Linked DNA regions of Homo sapiens. The protein of the gene in region 1 purifies or fractionates together with the protein of each later gene. This does not show direct contact. Each region holds a gene or a part of one and is shown on either strand. Other genes may lie near its edges.

Region 1 (3,653 bases):
CTGTATATATATATCTGTATATATATATATCTGTATATATATCTGTATATATATATCTGTATATATATATATCTGTATATATATATCTGTATATATATATCTGTATATATGTATATCTGTATATATATATCTGTATATATATATCTGTATATATATATATATCTGTATATAATATTATTTATCCACATGTGTGTATTTGGACACCTAAATTAAAAAGGTAATATTGTTGGTGCAAGTGTTCCCACTTTTAAAAATGTAATCATAAATTTGGAGGTTATCATATTTATTCAAAATAAATTCACCACCTTTCATGTTCTCACCTACCAGGTATGTTTCAGTGAATGAGTATAAAATGTTGGGGTTAAGGTAGAGAGACTTATGAAAGTGTTAGGGGGTACTGCTTGTATTAAGTCAGAAATGGAGAAGTTCCAATGGATTACTTGGTATTGCTGTCCAGAAACCTGACTCTCATACCATTTTGGGGGGAAGAGAGGTTTGGGACAGCAATTAATGAAGCATATCCATATTATCAAAAGGCATTTTTATTTATGAAATAGGAATAGAAATAACTGAAAATGTCTCTTTGCAGTGCCTTGTGTAAAGTATAGAATAACATAATTTCTGGGCATCATCTAAGCTCACAGAGCCTTAGGGTTCTGAAGTCAGCTACCTTTCAACTTTTCCATTTAACTTACCCTGGCCTCCATATTTTGAAAGCAGGTTGTCTATCAACATATGGCGTTTATTAAGTATGACCTAGTTTTTCCTCTTTACATTAATCAAAGATAGCCATAACTCTTTCAAGCTTTAGATTAGCATTAGGTTGCCCCCATGACCAGAGCTGATTGATAAAATGAATAGTTATGACATTTTAGTTCTCTTTGCACCATCATCTTAGGAAAATGTGTCATTTTGGGGAGTTTTCTGAAATATTTTAAAAGAGGTGATATACACCAATTCCTTCTCCAGTCGATGCAGTTGTTGACCTCTTGCCTCTTACCCCACCATCCCCCGGCTCCTGTATCAGCTGCTAATAGCTTACAGCTGCTTCCTTTTAAGGGAATAACCTTTGGCCGATGGGCACCATCTTGCTTGCAAGGTCATGCATCCTCCTCCCTTGATGTGCGCAGACCATGGCGATTGGCTCTCTGCTCAGGGGATATAGGAGGTCAGCCCCCTGCTGGAATCAGCTCTGTAATGCAATTCATGCCCAAAAGCATCGCATGGGATCAGGCTTATGCAGGGCTCTGGCTGAGAGCCCATCCCCACACAGGTCTTATCTCTGCCTTCTCCTGCTTCCTCTCTTCCCTCTTCTACTGAGAGCTTTTCTCTCCGCCCCAATATTACCTCATGTCCGAGAAACCCCATTTCAACCTCTGCTTCTAGGAAACCCAGTCTAAGACACCTCCCTTCAGAAACACGTGGTTCCATTCAACACTTTTGTTTTTTCTGATCAGACAACTCGGTTCTTATAGAAATGACCTGTTCAAGCTAGTAGGTAGAATAAGTAAAAATATAAGTTAGCTTTTACACTCTCAGCTAAGACTTCATTTACTATCCTTCAAAAAATTGAGAGGGTATACAAAGTTTAAACATCATTTTAAATAAAGAAACAGATTCAGAAGATTTTCTGTTACTTGAATTTAGTTTCTAGCTCCTGATGACTTCAGTAAAAAGATTTCAATTCTTGGACCTAGTAGGTAAGCACATCATGCTCCCTCATTGTTGAGAATTCAATGAAATGTGAAAATATGCACTGTTCAGGCAAGCTTGAAATAGCTGTAGGGTAAGTGGGCAGTAGCTGGAGTGAGAGGACATCATTAACGACAGTACTACATGGCAGGTCTAGGAAGAAGGCAAGGGAGCCCCAATAGTTCAGGTATCAGCCAACATTGGATTTACTCAGCATGCAACTAGTGGAGCTACACCCCAAAAAAGCTACATCCTCCAGGACCTGCAATCCTTTGTATATTTTAAAAATGTAATTTGTGTATGGTTTCAAAGAGGTGAGGGGAGACATTTTCCCTGATGGTAAAGAGGGTTGGATAAAAATAGTTATACTTATTAGCCAATATGTAAAAAATGCCCAGAAAGGAACAAATGTAGCATTTGTAGATTGTTTTCATGTAAATCACTGTCTGCATAGGTGCTGAATCTGTTTCTTTCTTTAAAAAGTACTGATTTATTTGCATTTCCCTGATCACTAGTGATGTTGAGCATGTTTTTCATACGTTTGTTGGCCAGTTGTATATCTTCTTTTGAGAATTGTTTATTTATGTCCTTAGCCTACTTTTTGATGGGATTGCTTGTTTTTTCTTCTTGCTGATTTGTTTGAGTTCCTTGTAGATTCTGGATATTAGTTATTTGTCAGATGTATAGGTTGTGAAGATTTTCTCCCACTTTGTGGGTTGTCTGTTTACTCTGCTGACTGTTCTTTTTGCCGCGCAAAAGCTCTTCAGTTTAATTAAGTCCCACCTATTTATCTTTGTTTTTGTTGTGTTTGGTTTTGGGTATTTGGTCATGAAATCTTTGCCTAAGCCAGTGTCTCAAAGGGTTATTCCAATGTTATCTTCTAGAATTTTTATAGTTTCAGGTCTTAGATTTAAGTCCTTGATCCATCTTGAGTTGATTTTTATATAAATGAGAGACGAGGATCCAGTTTCATTCTCCTACATGTGGCTTGCCAATTATCCCAGCACCGTTTGTTGAATAGGGTGTCCTTTCCACACTTTATGTTTTTGCTTGCTTTGTCGAACCACGATGTGGTACCACCTTACTCCCGCAAGAATGGCCATTATCAAAAAATCAAAAAATAATAGATGTTGACATGGATGCAGTGAAAAGGGAACACTTCTACACCACTGGTGGGAATGTAAACTAGTAAAACAGTGTGGAGGTTCCTTAAAGAACTAAAAGTAGAACTACCATTTGATCCAGCAATCCCACTACTGGATATCTACCCAGAGAAAAATAAGTCATTATATGAAAAAAGATACTTGCACACGCAATTGCAAAAATGTGGAACCAGCCCAAATTCCCATCAATCAATGAGTGGATAAAGAAACTGTGGTGTGTATGTGTGTGTGTGTGTGTGTGTGTGTGTGTGTACACACATAATGGAGTACCACTCAGACATAAAAAGGAATGAACTGATGGTATTCGCAGCAACCTGGATGGGATTGGAGACCATTATTGTAAGTGAAGTAACTCAGGAATGGAAAACCAAACATTGTATGTTCTCACTTGTAAGTGGGAACTAAGCTATGAGGATGCAAAGTCCTAAGAGTGATACAATGGACTTTGGGGACTCCGGGGGAAAGGGTGGGAAGGGGGTGAGTGATAAAAGACTACACACTGGGTTCAGTGTATACTGCTTGGGTGATGGGTGCACCAAAATCTCACAAGTCACCACTAAAGAACTTACTTGTGTAACCAAATACCACCTGCTCCCCAAAAACCTATAGAAATGTATTTTTTTAAAAAGTACTGATTTAATAAGTTGCATTTATTTCAGCTAATATCAGTGGATTGTTACAATTCCAAAGATGAGCTAAAACCTCTGTACATGAGGAACTTAGGGTCTATTCTAGGCTAAGACTTGTTTGTAAACAGACAAGTTCAGCCCAATAGATGGAGTTTTTTGTATGAGATCT
Region 2 (3,653 bases), on another chromosome or scaffold:
CGATGATTGCGGTGAGCCAAGATTGCGCCGTTGCACTCCAGCCTGGGCAACAAGAGTGAAACTCTGTCTCAAAAAAAAAGAAAAGAAAAAACAGCGTAGATTGCCTTGAAGAGATGGTCAACAGAAATATGAGTGTTAAAGGCAGTCTGATGAGGCCTTAGAAGGAAATGATGAACATGTTATTGGACAGTGGAGAAAAGGTGATCCTTGTTATAAAGTTGCAGAGAACTTGACTGAATTGTGTTCTATCATTGGGTAAGCAATGAACTTGGATATTTATCTGAGTAGATTTACAAACAACGTGTAGAAGGTATAGCCTTGTTTCTTCTTGCTTATATACTAATGTGTGAGAGGAAAGATATAAATTGAGGAATGAATTGTTTAGCAAAAAGGAGCCAGCACTTGATAATTTGAAAATTTTTTAGTCTGTCCAAATAGTGTATTGTGGTACAGGACCAAGGCTGTGACTGGACAGCTATTCTCTAAAGAGACTTGGTATATAACTTGTGGATCGAATCAGCCATCTCAGCACTTCCCAGAATAGACATGCAATTTTTCAGGAAAGATCTGTGGAGGACTCTCATTTGGTGGCTTCGACCCCCTGAATTTCATGAAAGACTGACAAAGTTTTTGAGAATGTTGTGACAGCAGAAACACTGCCAGGCTGGCCTGAATGGGACAGAGACAGAATGGAATTAAAGAAGAATGATGCTGAGGGTAGAGCTGCAAATGCTGGGTCCTGGGTGTATTAGACTTCCTGGGGCCACGATGGCAGGGCTATTTCCCCAGTGGACTCAGAGTACAAACCATTATCCACAAAAGCTTATTCTTAGGGCTTAAAGTCTAATGCTTTTCGCTAGGTTTTGGACTAACTTGGGACCCCTGACCCTTTTTCCCCCCTTCTATTTTCTTCCTTTTGATATGGAGATGTGTAATCTATAAGTGTCCCACCATTGTTTTTTGGAATCAGCTCCACAGATGGAGAAGAATTTTGCTCTAGAGTGGACCATACCCCCAGTCTCATTCATAACTGATCTAGATGATGAGATTTGATCCCTTTTGAGTTGATGATTTTTAGGTATTGTTTGGATTTAGACTTGATACTGGAATGGGTTAAGACTCTGGGAGGTTGGGATTAGGTGAATGTATTTTGCACATTGGAAGGACATAAATTTTAGGGAACCAGAAGGTACAGACTACTACGGGTTGAATTTTATCCCTCCAAAAATGTGTTGAGTCCTAGCCCTTAATACCTGTAAATATGAACTTATTTGGAAATAGGATCTTTGCAGATGTAATCAAGTTATAATGGAGTTATTCTGTATTACAATGGGCCCTAATCCACTATGACTGATGTCCTTATAAGAATAAGGACATCACACATGGGACAGGAGGAAACACCGTGTGATGATGGAGATAGAATTGAAGTTAGCAGCTATAAGCCAAGTTGTTGACCACCACCAAAAGCTAGGAAGAGGCAAGGAATGATTCTTCTCAGAGTCTGAGAGGGAGTGTGGTCTGTTATTGTGTTGATTTTGGACTTTTATCCTCCAGAAGTATGGGAGAATAGATTTCTGTTGTTTTAAGACATCCCAGTTTGTTGTGATTGGTAGAGCAGCCCTGGTAGACTAATACATTATTTCAGCTCTCTCTTGCTTACTATTCGCATGTAATATCTTAATCCATTCTTTTACTTTGAACCTGTTTGTGTCTTTGGATCTAAAGCAAACTTGTCCACTATGGCCTGCAGTCTGAATGCGGCTCAGAACGGCTTTGAATGTGTCCCAACACAAAATCGTAAACTTTCTTAACACATTATGAGTTCTTTTTTAAATTTTTTTATCTTATCAGCTATCATTAGTGTATTTTATGTGTGGCCCAAGACATGTCATCTCCTTCCAGTGTGGCCCAGGGAAGCCAAAAGATTGGACAACCAGGTCTAACGTGAGTTTCTTGTAGACAGATTGTAGATTGGTTGTATTTTTTGTTAATCCATTCTGCTAATATGTACCTTTTAATTCCACACTATATGTATGTGTAAACTACCGATAAGAATGGCCTGCCATTTTGCTTTGTGTTTTCTACCTGTCTTAATATCTTTTATTTTGATCTTTATTTTCTTTGTATTTCCTTGTGTTGCAGATATATAGCAGTGTACCATCTTCTCTTTTCATTTTCTGTATATTTTTATTTTCTTAGGGGTTACCTGGGGATTGCATTTAGTACTTTAAACTTTATCTAGTTTAATGCCAGTTTAGCTTCAGTAGTAAACATATCTCTGCTCTGTACTATTCTGTGCCTCACCATTTATGTTATTGTTGCAAAGTGTATGTTTTGATGTCAAATGCCCATTAACATAAATTTACAGTTGCTATTTTGTACATTTGTCTTTCAAATCATGTAGGGAGAAAAAGGAGTTAGAAATCAAAAGTACAATATCATATTTTTGCCTCTGTAAAATATGCCAGTGTTTTAATTTATGGCTTTAAGTGCTCTCTAGTGTCCTTTAATTTCATCTTAGAGGATTCCTGATAGCATTTTTTATAGGGCAGATCTACTAGTGATAATCTGTTTTTGATTTTCTGGTAATGTCTTAATTTCATCTTCGTTTTTAAAGAATAGTTTCGGCAGCTATAGAATTCTTGCTTGACGATTTTTTTTTTTCCTTTCATCACTTTGTTATCACACTGCCTTCTGACTTCCATGGTTTCTGATGAGCGGCTGTTAATCTTGTTGAGTATTCCTTGTTGCTTATGAGTCACTTCTTGCTGTTTTTATGGTTCTTTGTATTTGTCTTTCTACCGATTGATAATAATGTGTCTAGGTGGGGATCTCTTTCATTTATCCTACTAGGAGTTAGGTAAAGTTCTTGTTTGTACAGACTATATTCCCCAATAGTTTTTCAAATATTCTTTCTGTTCATTTTCTCCTCTCCTTCTGCAAATCTTATTATGCATCTGTTGGCATGCTTAATGGTTGTCTAAACGATCTCTTAGGCTTTATTTTCCTTTATTCTTTTTTTCTTTATATTCTTCATACTGGATCATCTCTGTTGGCCTAGCTTAAAGTTCACTGATTCTTGTTTTTCAAGTCTGCGGTGAATTTTTAATTTCAGTTATTATACTTCTCAGCTCTAGAATTTTTTTCTCTTAGTTCCTTTTTTGTGGGGGGGGTGTGGTTTCACTCTTGTCGCCTATGCTGGAGTGCAATGGTGTTATCTCGGCTCACTGCACCCTCCACCTCCTGGGTTCAAGTGATTCTCCTACCTCAGCCTCCCAAGTAGCTGAGAATACAGGGATGCGCTGCTACAAGCAGCCCAGCTAATTTTTGTATTTTTAGTAGAGACGGGGTTTTGCCATGTTGGCCAGGCTGGTCTCGAACTCCTGACCTCAGGTGATCCGCCCACCTTGGCCCTCCAGAGTGCTGGGATTACAGGTGTGAGCCACTGTACCCGGCCTCTCTTGGTTCCTTTTTATAGTTATCTTTTTATTGGTATTCTGTATTTGTCGAGACATATTTCTTCTGATTTCCTTTAGTACTTTGTCAGTGATTTTCTTTAGCTCTGATTGTCTTTAGTTCTTTAAACATTGTTTTTTACAACTTTTATTTTAGATTCGGGGGTACATGTGCAGGTTTGTTACTGGGGCATATTG

Evidence for each region. Proteins that work in one complex are often made in the same cells at the same time.
Region 2: the proteins of ANOS1 (region 1) and ZFP91 purify together in Homo sapiens (affinity purification with mass spectrometry; one large-scale study listed by BioGRID and IntAct). This does not show direct contact.

What each region holds. Positions count from the first base shown.
Region 1 is NC_000023.11:8,722,029-8,725,681, reverse strand, and holds part of ANOS1 (anosmin-1 isoform 1 precursor), read left to right. Parts: intron 1-3,653. UniProt on the Homo sapiens protein: Has a dual branch-promoting and guidance activity, which may play an important role in the patterning of mitral and tufted cell collaterals to the olfactory cortex. Chemoattractant for fetal olfactory epithelial cells.
Region 2 is NC_000011.10:58,602,910-58,606,562, forward strand, and holds part of ZFP91 (E3 ubiquitin-protein ligase ZFP91), read left to right. Parts: intron 1-3,653. UniProt on the Homo sapiens protein: Atypical E3 ubiquitin-protein ligase that mediates 'Lys-63'-linked ubiquitination of MAP3K14/NIK, leading to stabilize and activate MAP3K14/NIK. It thereby acts as an activator of the non-canonical NF-kappa-B2/NFKB2 pathway.